2 separate regions of the Homo sapiens genome follow, and region 1 is linked to region 2. The links come from fine-mapping of genetic effects on gene expression. Tissue or cell type: cerebral cortex. Region 2 holds a variant in brackets; the other region holds the start of a gene. All regions are shown on one strand. Distances are between the middles of the regions.

The links. PIP is the estimated chance that this variant, and not a neighbour inherited with it, causes the effect.
Region 1: ANKRD34C-AS1 starts here. The variant in region 2 is fine-mapped to the expression of ANKRD34C-AS1 in cerebral cortex (GTEx, PIP 0.98). The same link has a PIP of 0.9 or more in cerebellum.

What each region holds. Positions count from the first base shown.
Region 1 is chr15:79,282,636-79,285,396 of GRCh38, forward strand. It overlaps ANKRD34C-AS1 (ANKRD34C antisense RNA 1), which reads right to left and starts at 1,310. Exons shown (of 2, transcript NR_038997.1): 1 at 1,014-1,310. It overlaps ANKRD34C (ankyrin repeat domain 34C), which reads left to right and starts at 87. Exons shown (of 2, transcript NM_001146341.2): 1 at 87-593. RefSeq lists an enhancer at 22-561 and a silencer at 213-411.
Region 2 is chr15:79,210,044-79,212,767 of GRCh38, forward strand. The region is part of intron 1 of ANKRD34C-AS1 (ANKRD34C antisense RNA 1); the gene reads right to left. Among named protein-coding and RNA genes, the nearest start is that of MIR184, 1.6 kb to the left of the region's middle. The variant C/A (reference allele first, on the strand shown) is at 1,559.

The DNA of each region.
Region 1 (2,761 bases), 73 kb after region 2:
AGCAGGCGCCTCTGCCGAGGCTGCAGGTAGGCACTTCCCCACCCCCGCGGCCCCCTCCTTCCTCCTTCCTCGCAGCTCGCACACCCACACAACCCTCGCCCGTCGCGGCTGGAGAGCTGCTCTCGGCGCCAGCGGGCAGCAGCGCGTCGTCAGCCAGCACAGCCGGCCGAAGACCAAGCCGGAGGTCTGGGGCTGCGCAGAGACCTGCACACCCGCAGCGCGGAACCGGGGGCGATTCCTATCTTTCTTTCATGCTTCTTTCTTTTTCTTAAAACCAAACCAAACCAAACCAAACCCAAAACTCCCCTGCTCCCACCGCAACTTGGAGGAGCGGTGGACCGATTTGAAGGAACTGACGCAGAGGTTTTATTCACGAACCTTGAAGAAGTTCTGGGCAAGTGACTCAACAGGACCCGCGGGGCCCGGGGTAGCCCCAGCTCCCGGCGCTGGTTCAGTCTGGCAGTGCCCTCTGGCAGCCAACCCGCAGCTGCAGGTAGGGGTGCTGGACGCCCCCTGATTTTGTTTTGGGAATAATAATGACACTACCTATAGCCTGGACCCAGGTGGCCTCGCTCGGCGATTGTCCCCACCAGGTAAGCGCACCCCCAGGGGTCTGCATTGGTCACCCGGGTGGGGACCTCGAGCTCCCGAGAAGTCGGTCCATGCTGTTTAGCCACAGGCAGGAGTGGGGAACTGGTAGGAGACAGCTTGCTTTTATCACAGGAAATTGTGGGAGACGGGAATGGAAGGCGGATTTAACATTTTTTATTTTTGCATTGACGCGTGGGGATGAGATGCGTAGGGGCCTGGATTCTTGTAGGAAATGGTTGCGGAGCGGGGCTGGGTGATAGGTGTCTGGATTTTTGCAGGGACTGAAGGGGAAGAAAGGTCGTCAGTTTTTGCAGAAACCTGTGAGGAACTGGCGGTGAGAGGTTATGATCCTGAAAATGTGCACGAAATTGTAAAAAGTAGGCACCTAAGCATTTCTGAGAAATGATGGGAGAAGCACTTACCGCCCTGGTTTCACCTGACCCCCATGCTCGGCCTTCTGGAAGATGCCCACAGACACTGGCAATAATGGACGCTGGCACACTCTGCCGGCGCGGCCGGAGCCCCGGAGTTCAGCACCTCGGACAGAGCCCGAGCCCCGCCGCCCGAGGCGCACAGTGAGCGTGGAACAGCCCGGCTCCCTAGCCCCCGGCCAACGCTGCTCTCAGTTCAGGGCAGCTACGTAACACCGCCCCTAGCTCCGCGCCAGAAAGGGCTCTCGAATCGCAAAAGCAAACGTGTTCGATTTCTGATCTGCTTCTAACTGCTTCCCGTGACTGCAGAAGGAAGAGGCGGAGTGTAAAGATATCTCCCAAGCTTCCGCGAAAACTACAGGCAAACTGTGTGGCCTCCCCGGATTTCGGAAGGTGTACCCAAACTTCTTTAAAAATCTAGCATTTATTAAGCGCTTACCATGTGCCAAGGCCCCGTGCTAAGCCAGTGCACCACAAATTTGTGTCCTATGAGTATCCCCATTTTACAGATGAGAAAACTGAAGCAAGAGAGGCCGAGTAACTTGTCCAGGTTTATGGAACTAGCAAATGGTATGGCTGCGCTCTTAAACGCTGCCAGATTGCAGTGGTGGGAGGATGTGCTTGAGTGGAATTCCCTGCGTGAAATAGCTCTGAACTTGGGATCAGAGGAACAGAGTTTAAATCAAAGCTGTAGCACTTAAAAACGTGTGCCCTTAGACAAAATTACTAAATGTGTCTGAACTTCAGATTTTAACTATCTGTAAATACTTGATAATGCTTTCCTTGCAAAAGTGTCAGGGGAGGGTGGCCAAGGAGATCATATGTGTGGAAAGACTGGCAAACTGGGAATTGTGGTTGGGTGTTAGGGGCTGAAAGGAAGGAGCAGGTAATTAGAAGAGAAGGAGAATTGGTGGTGAACACTTCCCTCAGCACACTCCAAAGGGACTGGGCACAGAGCGGGGCTCAGTGGGAGGAATTCTGGATGAGCTTAGTTCAGTGTGTAATAGCCTCTTAGATTTTTTAACAGGACTTTATAGAGAGTGTGGACATATTGCCTACCATTTGATCCTTATAACAATGTTGTTAAGTAGGCAGGACTGGGGTTATTCTACTTGTTTGGCAAAATGATGCTTGCCCAAAATTACTCAGGTACTTAGTAGCAGAGCTGGGATTAGAATCCAGATCTCCCGCCTCTCTAGCTTATAATCCTTCCACATGGACTGGCACATCCTCAGGAGCTTGAATTATGGGGCAGTTAAGCACTAAAGTGTATTTAGACAAGTACTATAAATATGTGACATTAATGGTTTTTAAAACCATTTTGAAACAGCAGTTTCATATGGATTAATCTCATAAATGTTTATTGATTATATTCTATTTTGTTCCACAAAGAATTTAAAGCAATTTAGAAGGCTCCACAAGATGTCAGGTTTGCACGTATTCGAAGTAGTCGAGAAAACAGAGGTGAAACAAGATTAAGGCTATAGCCACAGATAAAATGAATACAAAGTATGTATATTATAAAGTCCTAGAAACTTGCTCTGGTCTCTAAGTACTAGAAAGTGTATAACCAAGCACTTTCTTGGAGGTCTAGGAACTTTGAAAATGTTTGCAAAAGTCCGTAGACTCTTCTCTTTTGTATAATTCCATCCCTTGCCCTCTGTGAGATCTTCACTGTGCCAAACAAGGGATGTTTAACTGGAAATCCAATGTCAGTGTGACTTGAAGAAGGGGAAATA
Region 2 (2,724 bases):
GTCAGTGAGATCTCCACTTTGCTTATTCAAAATGTGCTCTCTGCGACTGGGTTTAGGGTCTCCCCTTGAGAAAAGCGGTTGGGTGGTTGGTGAGGGAAGGGGGCTTATTCCACAGACTTCTTTATAAGGTGAATAAAGGGGTATAGGACTTTTTGGAATTTTAGGTACTCTTGCTTAAAAAAAAAAAAAGGGAGAGCAGGAATTTCCGTCTGATTTGAGGGAAAGTCCCTTTCCAGACATTTTCTTCAGCTGACAGCTACTCACCAAATGCTTTTGTCTTTTTCGGTTTATAGGAACCATGTGCTGAGACAGAAGGTTTCATGACTCTAACTAAACTTATATTCTATTACATTAAAGATGGTTATTTATTACGTTGTTGATTCAGAATGATCTTTTATAACTCATAATTACTTATACCAAATCAAACTCAATAAATGTCTTAATTGGCACATTGCAGTAACGGACTGACACATAAGCAAGTCTATACACCTGTGTGTAAAGATGTAAAACCACAGATAAAAATTCCTGTAACTACAAATGCTTCTATTTCCTGGAATGTGAATACAGATTAACATGCAATGGATTGCATCTCAGCTGAACAGGTACTTTTTTCTTTTCTTTTCTGCAATTAAATATTATGATTTTACTTAAAGAGTAAATACAGTTTTAAAGTTAAATGAAGGTGGTAGATGAACACAGTGGTTCTCAGCCTTAGCTGCTTGTTGGAGTCACCTGGGAGTTTTGAAGGGTCCTGATGCATGGCAAATTACATCAGAATCTTCAGGATGTGGCTGGGCAAGAGTAGGTTTGAGAACCGTGCAAAAATAATGTGAATTAAGGCATTTAGTGTTCACATGGGGGCCTTCTCACTTTAATGCAGGAGTATATAAGCTTGGCTATCTGATACTGATGCCTGGATCTCATTCCCAGAGATTCTGATTTAATTGGTCCAGGGTGTGGCCTGGGCACTGTAGCTGTGCCAGGTGATTGCAAGATACAGTTGAGGCTTTGAATATACAGCTGTAATGCCCCCTGACAACTGTGAAAGTCCCAGCACTTAGATTGGCTGGGCTCTCAACTTCTGGTATGATCCTCCACATGTCTTTAACTTTTACGATGCCTCAGTTTCCTTTAAAGCAAACTGGAACCTGAGATGATGGGTGGAATGAATGTCCCCTCAGAGCCTTTCCTGCTCTTCAAGGTGACTGAGGCCCAAGAGTGCTTTCATGAGATTGCAGTTACTGATGAGACTCAGCACTTGTGTGTCTTGGCTCTGGGTTCAAGAGTGTGGAGAGCGGCTCAGGTGGCCATGGGATGGATAGGCAGAGGCGGCTGGGAGGAGCGGAGAGTCCGGCCCAGAGACTCAGCCACCTCCTTCAGACAGAAAGGGGCCAGTTAGGGGCTGGCTGGACAGTGAAGGTGTTGATAAAAAGGGGCTGAGTGTTCCCCACCCTCTGGTGGACATATGATGTTGGATATCTCAGGTAGTCACCTGGTGAGACACTGTTGGGCTCAGAACTATAATAAAAACAGAATACATGTCTTTGCAGTTGATTCT[C/A]CAAAGGTTTTATTTTGTTTTTATAGTTCCTCATAACTCTGTCTTTATGCGGCATAAGTGTGTTTCCAATTCTTTTTTGGACTGGTCCAAAAACATACATGTGGAAAGATTTAAAAAATCCTGCATCATCCTTTGGATTATAAGAATATTAATAATCAAAAGCATAGCTCTCATTTCTTCAGGGCTTACTAGGAGTGTCTCTGTGCAAAACACTTTACTTTTTAATTTTAATTAGCTCATTTAATTTTTACACCAACAGTCTGAGCTAGGTACTACTATGATTACTACTATTATCATCCTCATTTAATAGTTGAGAATACTGGGTTCCACAGAGGTTAAGTGACATGCACCAGGTTACACAGTAGAGGGCAGAGTCTGGATTTGAATCCAGGACTGTCAGACCCAAAGGCAAAGTGCTAAACCACCACAGTTTACTACCCAGAGCACACCGTGGGTACATGCTGGAGTAGAGCCTCATTTTATAGATAGAGTGCCAGGCCCAGAGACCAGATGGATCTTTTCACCTGCAAAACAACAGCTGACCTCCCAAATGGTCCTGGGTGACAGGTCTTAGGGCTACACACATTTTGCAGATGAGGAAACTGCCATCCAGAAGGACACATGGCTGGTAAGTGGAAGGGCTTGGCCAAGCCCACCTTTTGGGGGTATAACACGTGCTCCAACCACCACTCACACTACAGGGGTTGGCAGAGCCTGATGGACTTGGTTGACTGTCTCTTCATCTCTGGATCCCAAGCCCCAGGCATGATGCCTGGCACATGGTGGGCTTGCAATCAATATTTGCTGAATAAGAACTCCAAAGACCAGACGTGCACAGACACATAGCCCCGCCCTCCACCAGATGCAGCCTTTTAGAGATTCAAGCTTGTGAATTACCTCCCCAACATGAGGAGCAATTGGTATTTTATGCAAATGTCTGACACCTGAATCTACTCCTCTGACTGCATTCACCTTCTTTACCCAGACTGTAAGTCAGCGATAACACTGTCTCATAGTAAGGGTCCTCAGACACTCACAGGCACCTCAGCCTTAAGGCAGTGAGCTCTGGATGGGGATTCAGAGACCCAGTTCAAACCTAGGTTTCAACATGAGTGATCTGGTGCTAGGCCCAGCCTCAGTTTCCCCACTTACGTGGTAGAGATGTA